6 separate regions of the Homo sapiens genome follow, and regions 2, 3, 4, 5 and 6 are each reported to be linked to region 1. Evidence: microRNA targets listed by miRTarBase, many of them from high-throughput screens and not tested one by one. Region 1 holds a microRNA gene; each other region holds the end of a gene's coding sequence. Distances are from middle to middle.
The links. Region 1 holds the annotated microRNA hsa-miR-4436b-5p (GUCCACUUCUGCCUGCCCUGCC, at 1,634-1,655, shown strand). A microRNA usually pairs through its seed, bases 2 to 8, with sites in the 3' UTR of a target mRNA and lowers its output. Matches are read on the target gene's strand: a 7mer-m8 pairs with bases 2 to 8, a 7mer-A1 pairs with bases 2 to 7 and ends in A, and an 8mer does both.

Region 2: the mRNA of GDF7 is a reported target of hsa-miR-4436b-5p. Seed matches in the 3' UTR shown: 8mer at 2,211-2,218.
Region 3: the mRNA of LRAT is a reported target of hsa-miR-4436b-5p. Seed matches in the 3' UTR shown: 7mer-A1 at 2,898-2,904.
Region 4: miRTarBase lists HPR as a target of hsa-miR-4436b-5p. Seed matches in the 3' UTR shown: 7mer-m8 at 673-679.
Region 5: the mRNA of METTL16 is a reported target of hsa-miR-4436b-5p. Seed matches in the 3' UTR shown: 7mer-m8 at 249-255.
Region 6: miRTarBase lists SYVN1 as a target of hsa-miR-4436b-5p. Seed matches in the 3' UTR shown: 8mer at 730-737.

Annotation. Positions count from the first base shown.
Region 1 is chr2:110,283,232-110,286,941 of GRCh38, forward strand. MIR4436B2 (microRNA 4436b-2) reads left to right here and starts at 1,622; the gene lies at 1,622-1,712. It also overlaps the pseudogene LOC128966597.
Region 2 is chr2:20,670,682-20,674,391 of GRCh38, reverse strand. It overlaps GDF7 (growth differentiation factor 7), which reads right to left. Exons shown (of 2, transcript NM_182828.4): 2 at 1-3,710. The coding sequence ends at 2,967. Among named protein-coding and RNA genes, the nearest start is that of GDF7, 5.4 kb to the right of the region's middle. RefSeq lists an enhancer at 3,252-3,710.
Region 3 is chr4:154,748,782-154,751,781 of GRCh38, forward strand. LRAT (lecithin retinol acyltransferase) reads left to right here. Exons shown (of 3, transcript NM_004744.5): 3 at 203-3,000. The coding sequence ends at 355. Among named protein-coding and RNA genes, the nearest start is that of LRAT, 6.3 kb to the left of the region's middle.
Region 4 is chr16:72,076,467-72,080,176 of GRCh38, forward strand. HPR (haptoglobin-related protein) reads left to right here. Exons shown (of 5, transcript NM_020995.4): 5 at 1-780. The coding sequence ends at 615. Among named protein-coding and RNA genes, the nearest start is that of HPR, 15 kb to the left of the region's middle.
Region 5 is chr17:2,416,416-2,420,125 of GRCh38, forward strand. It overlaps METTL16 (methyltransferase 16, RNA N6-adenosine), which reads right to left. Exons shown (of 10, transcript NM_024086.4): 10 at 1-3,710. The coding sequence ends at 3,555. Among named protein-coding and RNA genes, the nearest start is that of MNT, 17 kb to the left of the region's middle.
Region 6 is chr11:65,125,968-65,128,967 of GRCh38, reverse strand. SYVN1 (synoviolin 1) reads left to right here. Exons shown (of 16, transcript NM_172230.3): 15 at 254-405; 16 at 480-1,689. The coding sequence ends at 586. MRPL49 (mitochondrial ribosomal protein L49) reads right to left here. Exons shown (of 4, transcript NM_004927.4): 4 at 1,597-3,000. Among named protein-coding and RNA genes, the nearest start is that of MIR6751, 2.5 kb to the left of the region's middle.

The DNA of each region.
Region 1 (3,710 bases):
AATTTATAAGGAAAAGAGGTTTAATTGGCTCACAGTTCTGCATGGCTAGGGAGGTCTCAGGAATCTTACAATCATGGTGGAAGGCGAAGGGGAAGCAAGGCACACCTTACATGGCAGCAGGAGTGAGAGAGGGAAGTGTCACACTTTTAAACCATCAGATCTTATGAGAACTCCCTCACTATCACGAGAACAGCATGGGGAAACTGCCCCCATAATCCAGTCATCTCCCACCAGGTCCCTCCCCCAACATGTGGGGATTACAATTCGAGATGAGATTTGGGCAGGGACACAGAGCCAAACCAAATCACACTGCAAAAAAAAAAAAAAAAGGCAGGACTCTAGGGGGCTGGCCTGCCTCATTTGCTCATTCTTTACTGCTATGTAGCCAGAGAGGAAAATGTTCACCTGATTGATGTGGCCATGCGTGGCTCTGCTCTGCATTTCCAGGACAGCCTGTACCACGGGACCACTGGCATCCTGTACATGAGCGCTGCCGTCCTACAAGTACATGCCACGATTGTTTCTGAGAAACTGCTGGACCCAAGAATTTACTACATTAATTCGGCAGCCTCGGTGAGTGGGCTGGCCAAGGACAGCAGTCTTGCCTGGAGGATGTTTCGTGCAGGAGGCCTAACTTTGCTTGTGCTGTATAGACCCTGAGCCCTCAAGTGGAAGGAGCCATGGGGGCAGGGGATAGGGATGTGTGTCCCTGTAAACATGTGCACCCACGTTCAGGGGTCCTCTTTTACCTTCTATTGTTCCCACTCCAGCTTTCCTCTCTCTTAGACACCCCCCACGCTGTCTGCAGAATTTTCTTTTTCCAAAACACAAATTGGAACAGATGTCTCTCTCCTACTGAAAATCCTTCAATGGCACCCACTGCCTTTGGAATGGGGCCCGCATCCCTCGGCATGGCTGAACTATTGAGAGATGAAGCAGGGAAGGGGAAAGTGGAATGTCGAGGTCTCAGGGGAGGAGGCATCAGGGAAGGCCCTGTCAAGAGGACAGAAGGAGGCAGGGGCCACCAGGCAGTTACCCCTGCTAAGGTCCCACCAGGCAGTTACCCCTGCCAAGGACCCTCTGTGTGCTCAAGGGCAGCCAGGAGGGTGGTGTAGCTGGGACAGCTGGCCATGGAGGATTGCAGGGGCCGTTGCTGGTCTTGCAAGTTTAGGAAGTTAAACTCACCTGATGAGGAGGGAAGGGAGGCAGACAGGCCAGAAGGCAGCTGAAATATCTTGTGGCCACCCCAGAGGGTCACAGTGCACTCCACAGTGGGTGGCATTTACCTCCATCTAACCCATGTATGTGCTACTCATCTATCTTGCTGCTATCTGCTTCTTATCTCTCAAATGTAAGCTCCATGAGGGCAGGAATTTTTGAATATTTTCTTCACTGTTATACCCACAGTTGCTCTTGAAGGAAAGCAGGTCCTTAAAAGATATTTGTTGACTGACTGACTGAATGAGGAGCGTGTGAGTGGACAGTGGGGCAGAGTGGGGCTGGGATGTTTGGCAGGGCCTGAAAGGTATTGAAGGTGACGGCCCTACCCTGAGAAAAGAGCAGAGCCATCATACAGCTTCAACGTGGGGCAACGGGATTGTGTTCTCCCCATGAGTGAGAAGTGTCCTCACTTGTCCACTTCTGCCTGCCCTGCCCAAATGGTGGAGCAGATTCGAGGGGCAGGGCAGGAAGAAGTGGACAAGTGAGGCCATGAGGAGTCCTGCCGAGGGATGCCGGTGGCTGAGACAAGGGAAAAATGAATGTCCCAAGAGCTAGGCAGGGAAATCAGTAGCCTTTGGGGTGGCTTTGCATATGGCTGGCAAGGGAGGCAGGAGGAGCCAGGGGCCACAGGGGTCAGGCTCAGGGAGTGGGGCGAGAGGAGGACCCTGGGGCCCACTGGGCTTGTCAGGCTTGTGAGGAAACGTCAGGGGCTCAGTGTGAGCCAGGAAGAGCTGGAGGATGTCTGAACATTCACGAGGAGCTGATAAGCAGCCGCTCAGGGCAGAGTTCTGGGCCAGCGAGGGGAGCTGTAGGAGTGTTCAGAACACAGATTTGCTGGAGGTGGGCAGAGGAGAGCGGGCCTCGGGCAGGAGGTCAGCGTGGGATATGGGCCCAGAGCTGTGGTGGAGGTGAGCCTGCTTCACAGCCAGGTGCAGATGAGGTGGAGACTGCAGTCGGGGCAGGACACCAGGACGGCCCCAGGGAGGCCCTGATGGAGAGTTTCCAGAAGAGGGAGTTGTTGGCCAGGGGTTGCTGCCCTCAGGCCACGCAGGAGGCGAGGAGGCAGGGTCATGCGTGGCCTCCTGGGCAGTGGGGCTGAGGGTACCTGAGGGGTGGGCAGGAGCTGGCGCTGCTGTCTCTAACAGTCACTCTCCACCTCCTTCCAGTTCTTCGCCTTCATCGCCACGCTGCTCTACATTCTCCATGCCTTCAGCATCTATTACCACTGATGCACAGGCGCCAGGCCAAGGGGGAAATGCTCTTTGAAAGCTCCAATTATTGGTCCCCAAAAGCAGCTTCCAACGTTTGCCATCTGGATGACAAACGGAAGATCCACTAAAACGTCCACGGGATTAACAGAACGTCCTTGCAGACTGAGCGATGACACCACACTTTGTTTGGACATTTAAATTCACTCTGCTGAATAGGAGGAAGCTTTTCTTTTTCCTGGGAAAACAACTGTCTCTTGGAATTATCTGACCATGAACTTGCTCTTCTAGACAACTCACATCAAAGCCCTCACTCCACTAATGGAGAATCCTAGCCCCACTAATGCCAAGTCTGTTTGGGGATTTTGCCTCAGCTATGGGCTTCCCTAGAGTAGGTCTAGGGGAATACTCAGTCTGATCTTTTTTTTGTTTGTTTTATTTTGTTTTTTTTGAGACGGAGTCTCGCTCTTCCTCCAAGGCTGGAGTGCAGTGACGCGATCTCCACTCACTGCAGGCTCCGCCTCCCGGGTTCCCGCCATTCTCCTGCCTCAGCCTCCCGAGTAGCCGGGACTACAGGCGCCCACCACCGTGCCCGGCTAATTTAGTTGTATTTTTAGTAGAGATGGGGTTTCACCGTATTAGCCAGGATGGTCTCGATCTCCTGACCTCGTGATCCGCCCGCCTCGGCCTCCCAAAGTGCTGGGATTACAGGCGTGAGCCACCGCGCCCGGCCTGATTCTCTTAAAATTGAAGAGGTGCTGCCAAGGCCTTCAGATCTAACGCAGATGCATAGACCTTGTTCCTGGTACTTGTTCAGCCTGTGCTGGGGAGCCGTGGTCCCGAGTTCCCTGGGAGGCTGACAGGGTCAAGCCACCCTGCCCACCACCCTCCCACTTCCCCTCCCCTTTCCTCTCCAGCATTAGGATTCAAGGGAAATTTGCATGAAGCCAATTTTGAGGGTAGACGTGTGGGGAAAATAAATCATTATACAGTAAGACCTGGGGCTTGAGGGGTGGGGAATGGGGAGGGAAGGGCATAGCCTGCTCCTCCATGAGTCTGACATCTCGGAAACTGAGCAGCTGCCGGACGCCTGGGTCAGGAATCCAAGACCCCACCTCTTAAGGACTGGTTCCTCAGAAAGCACCCTCAGGGAAAAAGGTGAAAACATTACATCCGTGGATTCTCCTGCCACAACCGCATTGGAAGAAAAGGCTGCCGCAACATCTCAGCGAGGAGTGAAGGACCCATGTCCCAGGAACCGCGCTGCGCCACCTGCACTCA
Region 2 (3,710 bases), 90 Mb from region 1:
TTCAAGTGATGTCAACTAGTAGTGCACAATTCTCCCTACAAAATGGAAAATTCTGTTTACTTTAGGAGGGAGACTTTGGTGACCTCAGGTTGGGGTTGAGGGGACAGCCTTTCCTCACAGTCTTGACATGCTTTCTCCCTGCCTGTCAGTTCTCCCATCCATGGTGACTGGAGATTCCAGCTGGGGGTTGCAACAGAGAAGCTGGGTTCATGCCAGTCACCCAGGCCTGTCCCCCGCTACCTAGAAGACAGAGAGCTCAGGGTGCTACTACCAACTGTGCTGGCAGAACGCTTTTCTCCACACCTTGGCAATGCTAGTTAAACCACATCTTAGCAGCAAAAAGCCGTCTGCCCCACATGTGTTGGCCCTTTGTTGTCATTTTTACAAGTGAAATGGATCCTCTGCATTCACCTAGTGAATGGACTGAGATGCCAGAGGGCTGGGCAGAGTGGCCCCTGGGGGCTTCACCTGCTCCAGAGGAAATCTGGGAAGCATTCCTTTTATCCAGTAAACAAAGAGCACACTGAGGGTATGGGGCCATGGAAGGAACAGTCACTGTCCAAGGACAACACCCCTCCCACCGGGTGCCACCTGAACTCAAGATGCAGGAAGGTACCTACTTCCCACACCACTCACAACACATCTCGTTAGAAGGAGGTCATCAGAAGGAAAGAGGGGAAATTGACAGTTTTTTTCCCTACTATAAAAAGGCCAGGCTAAATCAAGACATTTCTGCCCAAAAAATTGTTTTTACTAGTCACTAAAAAAGTATCAAAATGTTTGCTTTTATCCAAAGATATTAAATACCCCAGACCTTCCTCAAAATAACATTTAACTGCACTTTGTCATTAACTTCCTTTCTAAACCTTCTAATACTACAACTTTCAACACTTCAGTGCTTTTTTTAATATATAATTCTTCATTATGACAAGCTTCATTTTAAAAACGAGAGTGAGGCATCTCTGGCAAAATCCACAAATTTAGGGACCATCTTTGCCCAGTCACTAAAATAAGATGGAATTGTACCAGAGCAGCCACTTTTGGATATTTTTAAAATTTTTAACCTGAAGAGACTGTTCATGTTCTGGTTATTTATAGCTACTCATACAGCCACAGAATATAAATTCACATAATAGGAGGAAGGGGGGAATCTTAATTTTAAGAGTAATTTACACGTGTATTTTTTTTTCTTTTGGGAGAATTTTACAGGATGAAAACCGATTCAGGTAGGGCCCCTAAGTAAATTAGCTGTATCTAAATCGTAAGTCTGTCTTCTCTCTCTCAAGAGTGTAATCACTGAGAATCAAAATGTGTATGAATTGTCCTGCATCCAACACAGGGTGGAAATAATGCTCCCCAGGACTCTGAAGGGGAAAGTCCTACACAACATCACACAGATGCACCGAGAGGGCTGCGGGGCTGTTCTAAGAAGCCCCCACCCCGGACAGCTGGAGTCCAACTAGGTTCCCTCTCCCAGCCTATTGACAAAAAGCCACAAAGGATTCCCAGGCATAAACAAATCAAATCAAACAGTGAAGTCTGAATGTTCGAACTCACTTTTACATGCCTAGAAAATCCTCCCATCAATAAGACCCTTTGGGGCCAAATAAGGGAACTGGGGGATATTCCACCTCTGCTCCCCCACACCAAGGCCCTGCCCTTCCAAGGGCACAGCAGCCAAGCCAGGGAGCCGATGAGGGGAAGGGGCAGACCTTCCCCCTGCTCTAAAGGTCTGGGTTGTGAGTTGAAGTCTGACAAAAGCATTTTTGAGTGGCTTCACTTCCCGTTACTATCACACTGCCAACAACTACAGCAACAACACAGCGAAAGCAGGTAAAAAGCGGAGGCCGACTTACTTGATAACTAGCACAAGCCCGAGTCGGCCCCGGGAGCTTCCGCCTACCTGGCCGGCAAGCCGGAGTCCTCGGCTGGAGTGGGCCCCAGGACACCTCCTTGCCTTTCAAGCCCTGAGAGCCTCTTCCCTGGCTTCTTAGGAAAACCTCCTGGCAGGTCTCTAGGAAAAGCAGTAGCTCCCCTCCCCCAGCCCCACCTTCCCCATTCCGGGCCATTGCACTAACTTCCTCCTGAGCCACCCGAGGCATGGCTCCCACCTCCCCCTGACCAACTGGGGAGCTTCCGAACCTGGCAGATCCTATCCCACCCCAATATCCTGTTAGATCAGACTCAGCCGTTTAAAAGAAAAATATCCTTTCCACTTTCCATAACATTTCCTATTGGAATTGATTAAAAAAAAAAAAAAAAAAGGCGGGGGGGGGGGGGGGGGTGGCGGTACCGACCTTTGCAGAAATCTGGGAAGCTCCACAACAGCTACTTTCAGACAAAACTTCCCTTTCAAAAATGAAGCAGGGGCACGTTAAATTTTAAAAGTTAAAAAAAGAAAGATGCTTTTTGCAGCAGTTCCAGGGTAAACGGCCCCATGCAACACAAACCCTCGGGAAGGGCATTACAGCCTTGCAGTGGGTCACGGAGTGCACCACGCGGCGCTCAGCCCCCCAGGGAAGCGATGCCCCACATCGGGCCAGAAACAAAAGGGGGTGAGATAAAGCATGCTCGAGTACCCCTTTGGTTCTCCCATTCTGGAACTTCGAATTTCCTAACCCGTTGTTGCTACCTGATTTTCGTGCCTCTAACTGCAACATCAGCACAAACACCTTCCTCTCCCTAAATGGGGGCAGTGGGCGCCATGGTTATCTGTTTGCAAAATACACAGGGCTTTGACATTCGGTACCGGCAGGTCATCTCTTCCCAAGGCTTTCACATGCTGTCCCCGGTAAATGTGTGCGTGACTGCACGAGTGTGTGTGAGTGTGAACGTGTGCTCTCCCTCCTCTGAGAGGGTGCTGGGTCACATCGGACATGCACCCACGCTCGGTGACAGGGTGGCCCGCTGCTGCTCATCAGCTGGGGATCCTCGGCCGCGTGGCTGCCCCCTCCCCGGCCCTCGCGCTACCTGCAGCCGCAGGCCTCCACCACCATGTCCTCGTATTGCTTGTAGACAACGTTGTTGGCGGCGTCGATGTAGAGGATGCTGATGGGGCTGAGGCGCGCTGGCACACAGCAGGAGGCCGGCGCCGCGTCTGGTGCCATGGAGTTGAGCAGCGTCTGAATGATGGCATGGTTGGTGGGCTCGAGGTGCGAACGCAAAGGGAAGTCGCAAAGGCCCTCGCAGTGGTACGCCTCGTAGTCCAGCGGCGCGATGATCCAGTCGTCCCAGCCGAGCTCCTTGAAGTCCACGTGCAACGGCTTGCGGCTGCAGCGGCTCCGGCCCCTGCGCCCGTGGCCCCGGCCCGCGCCCCCGCCGCTGCCCTGCGCTGTCCGCGTCCCGGCCAACGCCGTCCTCCTCCGTCTGCGGCCGCCAATGACTGCCCTTGGCGACGCGGTGCCGGTTCCTGGGTCGGGCAGCGGCTCTGAGGCCAGAGCGGCCCCGAGCGCGCGGGCCTGGGCGCGGATCTCCCGGAATAAGCTCTCTTTCCTCTGCGTGCGGGAGGAGACGACTAGCACCGCGCGCTCCTCTGCCGCAGAGCCCCCTCCGCCCGGCCAGCCGAAGCCCAGCCGCCGCAGTGCCAACGGGCTCGGCACCGGGCCTGCCACTGCGCGCAGCAAGAGGCAGAACGCGCGGGGGGGGCGCGGTTCACGACGGTGGCGCCTCATGGCGTCCGCCACGTCGAACGCCTCCCAGCGCTGACCGAC
Region 3 (3,000 bases), not on the chromosome of region 1:
CCTAAGGGATCATTTCTGCTACTATACGGTATAGAATCAGAACTGGACTCTTAACATTGTAAATTTTTTTGTAAGTCATAAGAAAAAGTCTAGTTCTTCTGGTAGACAGAAAATAGCTGGGAAAACTGATTTACTGTTTGATATATGTGATTCTTCTTGGGTTTAGCCACCTTTCCTAATTTTCCAATATTTTATTTTCCAGTTTTGTGAGACTGTGAAGATAATTATTCGTGATCAGAGAAGTGTTCTTGCTTCAGCAGTCTTGGGATTGGCGTCTATAGTCTGTACGGGCTTGGTATCATACACTACCCTTCCTGCAATTTTTATTCCATTCTTCCTATGGATGGCTGGCTAACTTCATACCCCCATGTCAGTGTGTGTATTCTGTATGTAAATATGTTTATATTTATAGAGCATCAATCAATATAAGCATTATTGAGAAAAATGTGACCCGTAACACTGTGTTCTGGATAAAAATGTGATTAGGAATCACGCAAAGTGCTTACTGTGTAAGCCCAAGAACAAAGGCTTTCTGAATCTTCTCAGGCAGTTCAGATTTAAAGCACCATCCAAACCTTGGAAATACGACAGGGTGTGGTAGAATTCAGCAATATGAGAAAACCAGCCCCTAAAATGATAGCCACAAGAGATTAATTGTGTTTTTTTTTCTCCTGTAATCCTTGTACTGTTCGGCTGAATTTGAAGATTGGAAGACTTATATTGAGACCAGTAACTTTACTGTAAATTTACTTTGTTTCATTGAAAAAACAAATTGATAAACATATTAAACTGGAAGAATTTTCTTTATTCAAATGAAAACATGTTTGATGACTGGTCAAAAAATAAGCTCATAATCTATTTTTTTCATGTAGTATATAAGTCAAGAATGTTTTATTGTCATTATGTGAAACCAATATTGGCAAATAGTACTTTAATGATGAAGTAAATGACCAGAAATTATAGAAATCTGTGTTTTCCTGTAAAAATAGCACTATAGTATCACTTGAACAATTTGATTTGGCTTTACTTACTAGGAAGCCTGGAATTCATTATTTTTTTCCTTTTATGTGCCACTGTGGCTACTTTAAATCACTCTGAGAGGTAAATGGATATAGGATTGAAGTTATGTGGGTATTTGGCATGTGTGTGTGAAATAAATATGTAGATAGTCACATATACACAGACTGAGAGATAAATTGTTCTTGATTGCTTTATTATCATCATACTAGTGTGTTCATTATAGAGTATCTGTAGAGGTGAATGTAAAAGTAAGTCCAATCTATTTTCTTATGTCATTGAATTTGTAGTGTTAACTTGCATATATGTTATTGGATGGGTTGTCTTTTAAAGCATTTACTAATGTACTCTGAAATTTTTAAAAGCCTTCAGATTTGTTTTCTAGTCACTTTTTTCCATATCATTTCTAATTATAGTTTATATCCTTAAAAGAAGGATGCCACAGTAGTATGTAAAACCCAAACAAGTAGAACCCAAGCAAATAAAATTATTTAAAATAATTTTAAAGTGGCTTAGTACTGCCAGTCATGTAAATTGATTCTGCTGAGGGTCTTATAAGAATTGAGATATAACAATGGTAAAACAAGCATTCAAGCACTTTTACAAAATTACCAAATTCTTAAAATGAAGCCACAGCTAGACTTGCATTTCAGGTATTAAAATTGCTTTCTTAACTGTCAAGAATCACAAAATAACAAATCATATTATGAGTGAATATGGGGAGGGCGGGGCCAATCAGTCAATGATAATCTGAACAAATTTTAAGAGCAGATTTTAGATTAATAATGTTTTATCACCACTAATTTGCCCACAACAAACTCAGTATTTAATTTTTCAAATTAAATATTAAATTATTTAAGTATTTTAAATAATTAAAACATTAAATGGCAACACCATAGAATATAGGTGTTCTCTGGACCTATTCTAACCACTTAAAATTATCTTAAGTATGCATACATAAAAGCAACCACTATGAGAACTACCGTGTTAGTGGTTTTTCACTTACTGTATATTACCCTTGTAGGAATAGTTTAAGGAAATTCATTTCTTAAAAATATAGTGTCCTCAAATAATTAATTTTTTTGCAAACTTTAGTTATTACAGGCAGCAAAAACCACTGTCTGAAACTAAATCTGTGTTCAAAGATGAAGACCCCTCATTAAAAGCCAAGGACGTTCTTAAGATTGGAACTGACATAATTAGTCTTGACTTACTTCATTAAAGCAAGATTCAATTCCTTGTTCATTTGAGTGTTCATTATATGCCAGGCATTGACCAGTTGCAATTTTATGGTCCAGAATTAATATTATTATTCGTAAACTAGCTATAATAGAGTATATACAGTGCTGTGGGAATACAGGGGAAGAAGCAATTAAATCTGCTAGAAGGGTAAGAGAAATCTGTATGCAGGAGGCAATGCTAGCATTAAGCCAAGAAATAGTGTGAGGTGATCTTATCACACTGATGTGTTCAACTGTTTATGGGAAAAGGAAACTAGGATGGTTTTATTTGTGAAATGTTCTACAACGCTAGAACTGTTGAACTTCTTGGGAGAAAAGGAGAATCTTTGTTTTGTTGTGCTGAGTTTGATTAGTTGCTTAACCAAGTAGAAAGAAAAGCACATCTTCCTGATCACAGTTATAAAAGAAACCCTGAGGCCGGGCGCGGTGGCTCAAGCCTGTAACCCCAGCACTTTGGGAGGCCAAGGAGGGAGGATCACAAGGTCAGGAGATCGAGACCATCCTGGCTAACACGGTGAAACCCCATCTCTACTAAAAATACAAAATTAGCTGGGCGTGGTGGCCGGCGCCTGTAGTCCCAGCTACTCATGAGGTTGAGGCAGGAGAATGGCGTGAACCGAGGAGGCGGAGCTTGCAGTGAGTGGAAATTGCGCCACTGCACTCCAGCCTGGGCAACAAAGTGAGACTCCATCTCAAAAAAAAAAAAAAAAAAAAAAAAAAAAAAAGAAGAAGAAACCCTGAG
Region 4 (3,710 bases), not on the chromosome of region 1:
AATCTCTTCCTGAACCATTCAGAAAATGCAACAGCGAAAGACATTGCCCCTACTTTAACACTCTATGTGGGGAAAAAGCAGCTTGTAGAGATTGAGAAGGTGGTTCTACACCCTAACTACCACCAGGTAGATATTGGGCTCATCAAACTCAAACAGAAGGTGCTTGTTAATGAGAGAGTGATGCCCATCTGCCTACCTTCAAAGAATTATGCAGAAGTAGGGCGTGTGGGTTACGTGTCTGGCTGGGGACAAAGTGACAACTTTAAACTTACTGACCATCTGAAGTATGTCATGCTGCCTGTGGCTGACCAATACGATTGCATAACGCATTATGAAGGCAGCACATGCCCCAAATGGAAGGCACCGAAGAGCCCTGTAGGGGTGCAGCCCATACTGAACGAACACACCTTCTGTGTCGGCATGTCTAAGTACCAGGAAGACACCTGCTATGGCGATGCGGGCAGTGCCTTTGCCGTTCACGACCTGGAGGAGGACACCTGGTACGCGGCTGGGATCCTAAGCTTTGATAAGAGCTGTGCTGTGGCTGAGTATGGTGTGTATGTGAAGGTGACTTCCATCCAGCACTGGGTTCAGAAGACCATAGCTGAGAACTAATGCAAGGCTGGCCGGAAGCCCTTGCCTGAAAGCAAGATTTCAGCCTGGAAGAGGGCAAAGTGGACGGGAGTGGACAGGAGTGGATGCGATAAGATGTGGTTTGAAGCTGATGGGTGCCAGCCCTGCATTGCTGAGTCAATCAATAAAGAGCTTTCTTTTGACCCATTTCTGTGTTGTGTTCAGTCTTGAGTCTTTTTTATTTGCTCCTTTATGGTCCAGGGTAGTCAGAAGGTATAGAGTCTACTGGGAGTATGGCAGAAAACACCCTAAACCCACTGGAAATCCCGAAGGTGATACAAACTCTTCCACCTTAGGGAATCATGCTCACTGATTGAGTGCCTATTGAATGCTAGGTCCCAGAAAGTTAACTGTTGTCCTTGTTTTACAGACAAGGAAACAGAGACTCAGAGATGGTAAGTGAGTTGCTTAAGGTTACATAGCTATGAAACAGGGAAGCAGAACTTTGAACCCAGGTCTGTTTGATACAAACTCAGAGGTCCTTTCACTGCATGCTGTTGCCTCTTTAAAGCGAATTAGGAGAAAGGGCATGGGCCTGGTGAGGAAGAGGCTAGCTCAAAATGGGATGGGGAAAAAGTGTTTTAACACAGACAGTACTTCAGAGTTTGGGATCTAACCTACCAGCACTCCAGAAAACAAAAGATGATGATGTAAAGGCAGGATCTCTGGACTTGCTGAGTCCAAATCATGGCTTGGCCCAAACATTTGCTAAGTAATTTAGGCTTCCTGGCCATTAGTTCCTGGTCTCTTCCATGAAGGACTTGAGCCAGGGTAACGTCCCTATCAGCAATAAGCTTCTGGGACTCTGTAAAGAGTGGGGAGGTAGAGTCCCTGCCTCAGTAGAAGCTGCTTTTCCTACTTGGAACAAACCCACCCTTCACCAGGAATCAAAAGCAAGCTGTCTGAGCCTCCTCTCCTGATGGCAGGTCATGCTATTAAGGGTCTCCCAGAAGAAAGCTTCTGGAGCTCTGAGAAACAGAAGCTCTTCTAACAGAACTTTTTCTTGCTATAAGCTTTCAATACCACCAATCACCAATGTGCCTTCTTCTCATGCGAAAATACGGCCCCTCCTTTGCAGGGTGTAAAATGACACTGATGTCACTCTCTCTCACCAGGGTCTGGCCATCTCTGTGAAGCTCTCCTCACAGGCACCCTGCAGATTCATCAATAAACTTCAACAGGTTAGCGCTAGTAGGCCAATAAGACCTATATTCTAGAACCTGTGAAAGAGATAATAGCCAGAAACTGGCAAACACCAGTCAAACTCTTTAAAAAAATGCCTCTTAGAACACAGTCACTTACACATTTTCCTAGATCTCTTCAGCACCAAGTTTCTTGGAAGAACAAGGCACTCTGCAGTTTTCTTAAAGAATTGTCTGATTGTATTAAGTGGCTTCTGGTAAAACAACAGTAAGAGAAAAGTTCTGGCATTCTCTTGATCACTCATCTTCTCTGCCTTCCTCCCCAGCACCACCTCCTGGCCTCAGCCTGTGGGCTTCTGCAAAGTCAGGTATCAGGACTAATTAGCTAGCATCAAATTCCTGTTAATTCCAGAAGCAGGGACAAACCTGTTGGGGAGGGACTTAATGACAAAATTAGGTATAGGTCTATACGTTAATCAAGGAAAATTCTCTACTTCCTTAAACTTACTTACCACCCTAGAGGAGAGCCAAATCCACTCTGATGACGTTTGGTCATAGGAAGGAAATTGGGGAAAATTACAAGTTTCTCCAATCCATGTAAAATTAAGAAATCCTGGGGAAGTTGTAAAGAGAAAACAGTACCCTATTCCCTTGAAAGGCAGAATAGGTTTATAACTTATAATCGAAGGTCTCCTTCAGGAAGGACTTCTTGAACCCCATATGTCCTCTTACAACACTCCAATATTGCCTGTAAAAAAGTCGGATGGGTCATAGCGGCTACTGCGAGACCTTCGAGCCATTAACCAAATAGTCCAGACCACCCACCCTGTCATTCCTAACCCTTACACCATTATCAGCAAGATCCCTCATGACTGCCAGTGGTTCACAGTAATAGACCTCAATGATGACTTCTGGGCTTGCCCCTTAGCTGTGGATAGCTGGGACATATTTGCTTTTGAATGGGAAGACCCTCATTCCAGTTGGAAGCAATAGTAGTGATGGACAGTTCTACCCCAAGGGTTTACAGACTCTCCAAACCTATTAGTCAAAGTTTGGAACAAGTCCTAGAGAATTTCCCTCTTTCATCATCCTTATGTCTACTCCAATATGTGGATGACCTGCTCATTTCCAGAGGCACCAAAGACCAAGTAACCGCAATTTTAATTAGCTTTCTAAATTTCCTAAGGGAACAATGGTTACGGGTCTCAAAAAGTAAACTCCAGCTTGTAGAACCTGAGGTAAAACACATGGGGCACTTAATAAGCAAAGGTAAGCCGAAGATAGGGCCCGAACAAATGGAAGGGATCATATCCCTGCCACTGCCTGAGACAAAACAAGAACTTAGAAAATTCTTCAGGCTAGCTGGAAATTATTGCCTGTGGATTGACTCTTATGCCTTAAAAACAAAACCTCTATATCTAAAACTTACCCAAGAAGGGCCTGACCCCCTTCTTTGGACCCCACAAGAAGTCCAGCAAGTTGAGGAACTAAAACATCTACTTATAACTGCCCCTGTCTTAGCTCTGCCATCCTTAGAACAGCCATTTCACTTTTTTGTTAATATAAGCAATGGGGCAGCTATAGGAGTACTCACTCAAAAGCATGGGGCCATTGCCAGCCCACAGCCTTTCTGTCAAACATTCTTGACGTGGTAACCTGTGGGTGGCCCGAATGTATCCAATCTACAGCAGCAACTGTTTTATTGACAGAGGAAAGTAGAAAAATAACCTTTGGGGGAAGTCTCATCCTAAGCACACCCCATCAGGTTAAAACCATTCTTAGCCAAAAAGCAGGGAGATGGCTTACAGATTCAAGAATCCTAAAATATGAAGCTATCCTATTAGAAAAAGGTGATTTAACCCTAACCACTGACAATGTGCTCAACCCCGCCACCTTCCTTTTTTTTTTTTTTTTTGAGATGGAGTTTCACTCTTA
Region 5 (3,710 bases), not on the chromosome of region 1:
GATTTCCATCGAGAGGAAAGGCTTTATGTTTTATAAAAAATATATACTAAAGTAATCTACACGAAGCTTAGGATGAGTTGAAAGGGTACTGCCAAAACGCGGCCCTGCCCAGGACACACAGCAGAGGTCTGGAGTGGGGACAGTGCGGCCAGCATGTGTGGGGAAGGAAGCAGGCTGACGGAGGCAAAGCAGATTCCGAAGAACAAAAGCAGCTTTAGTTTGCCTGGGCAACAGGCTCAACTTCTGTCTCCACTTCAGTTATCAGGAGACCAGAAGCCGATTCTAGGGACCAGAAGAGAATGTAGGGTCACATCACCAAGATTTAATTTCATACCAACCCCGCAACATGAATGTGACCTCTGGACACCGGGAGAGTAACACTCAAGGTTATGACATATGAGTCAATAACCCATTTCTTCAAAGAAAAACTTGCCCACCTGTACCAGAGGTATATGCTATGAAACAACACACAATTATAAAGCATATGCATGACCAAAACAATGCTTAGATGTCCTTTAAAAATATTTTCAATGTTCTCTCACTAGGTAGCCTAAGAAAATCTTCTCAGGGAAGGAAATGGAAACATCCAAATGCACAGAAGGCACTCGGCTCCAGACTGAAAGCTGGCCTGCTCATGGGTTCCTTTTTTTTTTTTTTTTTTTTTTTTTTTGAGACAGTCCCACTTTGTCGCCCAGGCTGTAGTGCAGTGGCATTCTCGGCTCACTGCAACCTCCACCTCCCAGGTTCAAGCGAGTCTCCTGCCTCAGCCTCCCGAGTAGCTGGGATTACAGGCACGTGCTATCATGCCCGGCTAATTTTTGTATTTTGAGTAGAGACGGGGTTTCGCCATGTTGGCCAGGCTGGTCTCAAACTCCCGACCTCATGCGATGCGCCCATCTCAGCCTCACAGTGCTGGGATTACAGGCGTGAGCCACTGCGCCTGGCCACGGTCACGGATTTTTTAAAACTCTAAGGTCATTAGCTTGACATCTATAAAATCTCCTCCATGACATGAAGCCTTAAACCTAGGGACAGAAACACACTGAGACACAGAAACACCTTCTGTGCTTCAATACACAGAGCATTCTCTGGAAATCCCTACGACACAGGCTTAAAGGCCAGTGCTGTGCCTGAAAGACATTTTGAACAGGCAAGGAGTGTAAGCTAATACACTACTGTTACAACATGGACAAATACTTGTAAGATGTTAAATGAACAAAGGACCAGAATACAAAACTGAATACGCAGCATGAGGACAACCAAAGTTAAACCCACACACTCACACACCCCGTCTACAGAGAGACTAGAAAGGAACACGCCAATGCCAAGAGTGGTTATGTTACAGAAGGTTGGGACTCGGGGTGATTTTGTTGTTTTGACTTTCATTTTTCCAAATCTTTAATGAGCATGTGCCACTCTTTCATAATGAAACAAGCAAACAATAAGTACTTACTACTTACTGAATGAATAGTTGCCACTTAAACAATTATCCTAAAATTATACCAAGGAAACTAGGTTTGGGCCCAGCAAATGACTCAAATGTAATATTCACTCGAGGTAAGGACAGTGGGGTGGTGTGGGCTGGCACAGCAGAAAATTTCTAGACCAGGGGAATCCACGGTCCTGAATTGAGTCTTGGCTCTGTGTGACCCTGGGTATTGTTTTTTGCAGCCTGACACATGAATGCTTGGACTAGAATAATGATTCTTAATCCTTAGTGGGTTATTGACCCCTTTGTCTGTGTCTGAGGGTTCTGGGAACCCTCTCTCCAGGAAAAAAAATACACACACACACACACACACACACACATGCTCACAGAGCTTTTAGAAGTAACTCTAGGAGGTACATGGACTCTCTGGAGGTCCACGGACCAGGTTAAGAACACTGGTCAGAGGCTGGGAGTAGTGGCTCACGGCTGTAATCCCAGCACTTTGGGAGGCCAAGGTGGGCGGATCACCCGAGATCATGAGTTCGAGATTAGCCTGGCCAACATGGTGAAATCCCATCTCTACCAAAAACACAAAATTAGCCAGGCGTGGTGGCGCGTGCCTGTAATCCCAGCTACTTGGGAGGCTGAGGCAGGAGAATCGCTTGAACCCGGGAGGCGGGGGTTGCAGTGAGCTAAGATCGCACCACGGCACTCCAGCCTAGACAACAAGAGTAAAACTCCACCTCATAACAAACAATCAATCAAAAAGCCACTGGTCAGTATGCTGCCTTCTCCAGCTCCAGCTCCACAGCCAAGTTAAGGCACAGCAGTTCCGCTTCCTGTGTCTCTGCCGAGGGCCTGATCTAGCTGCTGCCAAGACATGCCAAGGTCACCAGCTTCCCGTCCTGACCAACAGCCACCTCTCAGAAGGCTGGCTTAACTACTCAGCCCCAGTCTTCTTAGCAGATGGCAAGGAGCTCTGGCCAAGATTTTAGTCTAAACAGAACCCTAGGCTGCTGATGCAACATCAAGCACAGCAAAAGGTCACCCCTTTCCGGGGGGACGGCTACTGAACCCTGGCATTCCAATTAGAAACGTGTTTCAAGGACACAGTTACTCCGGCCTCAGAACTCTCCAATGTGAGTAGGTAAGTACAGGGGGGATTACAAGTGAAGCCACAAAAAAACAGTATTTGATCAGCAACAAAATATCTGAGACTTTCTTAAGCTACCTACGGCACATACTATTTTGTTCTATTTCTCATTTCTATCATCAGCCGCTCACTCAGCTAACCCCAGGATTCAAATAGGACCGCTGGTTTTTAATTTGTGAATATTCTTATTTAAAAACAAAACAAGCTCTACTTCAGATGTCCAAACAAAAATCACACAGTAGTAAAACTGCTACAAAATGGTACTGTCAACAGGCTGGAGGTGGGGGTATGGGTGCCTTCTGTGTGCCTCAGTCACACCGGGGAGTTTTGCTTACCTAATTCTGCTTCTGAAATAAGCAACATCAAAACAGCCAGGTGTCAGGAATGTGCCATTTACCGGGTGGTCCCCAGACTCTGCTGCTCCTTCCCAGCATTACTAAGGTTTCTCTCCCAGATTCCCCACCACCCACCATACAGCTCCCTTTGTGGGATTGATGCAAGGTAGGCCCCATCTTGAAGAGTGACCTAGAACAGGGTACCAGGGCCTCCAGCTGGAGGCAGAGAGAGCCACCCCTCCTCAAGAAACACCCTTGGGTGACAGAGACAGCATGATATTCTAGGCAGTGCTGCCCAGCCCAGACTCCACAAACAACCCTTCTGACCTTGCAGAGGCAGTCCAGAGCTGAGGGGCCAGCTTGAGCCAGCTTGCAATCCCTCGGGAGTTTACTGAGGGCTTTCTGTTGTTACTGATGACCACAATTCCTCCTTGTAAATGACCACACTACGACTCCCTGTAACTCAAAAAGCGGGAAGGAGGCGGGGGGAGGTGGGGGACAGATTCATAGGTTTTTGTTTTCGAAGATAATTCCACATCGTGCTACTAATGGGCCGCTGGTAGGATTCCTCTTGCCACCCCACAGGCCACTCCAAAGCAAGTTACTATCAACACGTTTCCAACTGTGCAGGAGGTTTCTAGTTAACTGCAACAAGCCTGAAAATTTGGTTACGTATGTAGGTGCAAAGCTGGTTCATCAGATCCCTGTTCTGGCCCTCAACCCAGTGCATCTCCACTAAGGCATCGTCCACCTCCTTCTTAACGTTTATCAAACACTTAAACAGGTACTGTCC
Region 6 (3,000 bases), not on the chromosome of region 1:
TGCAGGGTAAGAGTGAACAGGTCAACAGTCCCTGCCTGCAAGCACCTTACAGCTAAGGGATAGAATCATTTGGCCCTTGAGTCCAGTCACCCTGTCTGAGTTCATTCAGCATGTTCACTTGTGTTTGCCAGGCACTGGGGCCACAAGGGCACATCATTCTATACTCTGTTCTGCAAGGCTCACCAAGGGCAGGAGAATCTGCCCAACCTTGGATGCCAAGGCCAGGCCCGCCTCTCGTCCCTTCTCTTCCCAGGCCCCCCCGGCCTGCCACTTCAGTCAACTCCACTGAGGAGACTGCCACTACAGTTGTTGCTGCTGCCTCCTCCACCAGCATCCCTAGCTCAGAGGCCACGACCCCAACCCCAGGAGCCTCCCCACCAGCCCCTGAAATGGAAAGGCCTCCAGGTAGGTGTGATTGGCCTCCAGCCGGGGGAGCAGGGAACTTCTCTAGGTTCCACTTCCAGTCTCTCTGTCCCCAGCTCCTGAGTCAGTGGGCACAGAGGAGATGCCTGAGGATGGAGAGCCCGATGCAGCAGAGCTCCGCCGGCGCCGCCTGCAGAAGCTGGAGTCTCCTGTTGCCCACTGACACTGCCCCAGCCCAGCCCCAGCCTCTGCTCTTTTGAGCAGCCCTCGCTGGAACATGTCCTGCCACCAAGTGCCAGCTCCCTCTCTGTCTGCACCAGGGAGTAGTACCCCCAGCTCTGAGAAAGAGGCGGCATCCCCTAGGCCAAGTGGAAAGAGGCTGGGGTTCCCATTTGACTCCAGTCCCAGGCAGCCATGGGGATCTCGGGTCAGTTCCAGCCTTCCTCTCCAACTCTTCAGCCCTGTGTTCTGCTGGGGCCATGAAGGCAGAAGGTTTAGCCTCTGAGAAGCCCTCTTCTTCCCCCACCCCTTTCCAGGAGAAGGGGCTGCCCCTCCAAGCCCTACTTGTATGTGCGGAGTCACACTGCAGTGCCGAACAGTATTAGCTCCCGTTCCCAAGTGTGGACTCCAGAGGGGCTGGAGGCAAGCTATGAACTTGCTCGCTGGCCCACCCCTAAGACTGGTACCCATTTCCTTTTCTTACCCTGATCTCCCCAGAAGCCTCTTGTGGTGGTGGCTGTGCCCCCTATGCCCTGTGGCATTTCTGCGTCTTACTGGCAACCACACAACTCAGGGAAAGGAATGCCTGGGAGTGGGGGTGCAGGCGGGCAGCACTGAGGGACCCTGCCCCGCCCCTCCCCCCAGGCCCCTTTCCTCTGCAGCTTCTCAAGTGAGACTGACCTGTCTCACCCAGCAGCCACTGCCCAGCCGCACTCCAGGCAAGGGCCAGTGCGCCTGCTCCTGACCACTGCAATCCCAGCGCCCAAGGAAGGCCACTTCTCAACTGGCAGAACTTCTGAAGTTTAGAATTGGAATTACTTCCTTACTAGTGTCTTTTGGCTTAAATTTTGTCTTTTGAAGTTGAATGCTTAATCCCGGGAAAGAGGAACAGGAGTGCCAGACTCCTGGTCTTTCCAGTTTAGAAAAGGCTCTGTGCCAAGGAGGGACCACAGGAGCTGGGACCTGCCTGCCCCTGTCTTTTCCCCTTGGTTTTGTGTTACAAGAGTTGTTGGAGACAGTTTCAGATGATTATTTAATTTGTAAATATTGTACAAATTTTAATAGCTTAAATTGTATATACAGCCAAATAAAAACTTGCATTAACAATTGGTGGGGTTTGTGTCACAGAATCGATCAAATCAGTGTCGGGCTCCTTGCTGTGGCTGTACACTTGAAAATGGAATGGAATCTCCAGGAGTGAGGGTTTCCATGGAAGCCAGCACTATCCTTGGGGACACCACTGACCATTAACAGATTAGGAAGATGTGCCCATTTTACACACAGAGAAGCAGCCCAGAGTTCAGTGCCCTGCTTCAGGGCAGAGACCAAGTTGGGGAGTCAGGAACTGAAAGCTGTCTTAGCCAGTTTGGGGGCAGGGTGGGGTCTCAGGCCTTTGGCCCCTGTGACTCCAAGTATAAGGCATATATGAAGGCTAGTGAGCTGGGGTTGGGATGGGATGGCAGGGTGAAAGGTCAGCATATTCCTGCCTGCAAACCCCTCCCCAGCCTTGATTGCAGGTCAGAAGGCTGCAGGGGGATGTCCCTATGCTGGCTGTGAGTTCCCAGCCACTCCCTTGTGGTCAGGCCAGCAAGTCTGGTCTGCAATGGAACAGTGACCAAGAACGTGCCTCCTACCTCTCTATCAGAGCCCGGGGCTAACGTGGGCACTCTGTGCCCCAGTGCCAGCACTGTACTTTGAACAGAAGATCTCCAAGACCCATGCCCGAGTCATCTGTGTTCTCCATCACCTGCACCAAACAAGATCTGGCCTAGAGCAAAGGCTTGGGGGTATTTGCAACAGTGAGCTTCGGAGGGCCAAGGAAACAAAGTGCCCAGTGGCTCTGCCCTGTGCTACCTTCCCCTAAACTGGGGTTGGGCTACTGCTTCCACCAAATAACAACTAGAATTTGAATTGCTGAGCCCAAGGAAAGAAAAACAAAACAGGCCAAGGTGGACCAGGCACATGGCTCATGCCTATAATCCCAACGCTTTGGGAGGCCAAGGTGGGCGGATCACTTCGAGTCAGGAGTTTGAGACCAGCCTGGCCAACATGGTGAAACCCCATCTCTACTAAAAATACAAAAATTAGCAGGCTGTGGTGGTGGGCGCCTGTAATCCCAGCTACTCAAGAGGCTGAGGCAGGAGAATCCCTTGATCCCAGAGGTGGAAGTTGCAGTGAGCCAAGATCATGCCACTGCACTCCACCCTGGGCAACAGAGTGAGACTCCGTCTCAAAAAACAAAAAAGAACAGGCCAAGATAGGAGGGAGAGAAAGCTGCTGACGCCCCCCATTAGCCTGGTGATCCCTATTTGGTCTCCCACATTAGGCACTCTCCCCCAGCATGTACATAGAGTTGTTTTCTCCTTTATGCAAGCAAGGCCTGACCCCAAAGTCCTTTAGCCCTAGTTTCTGTATCCC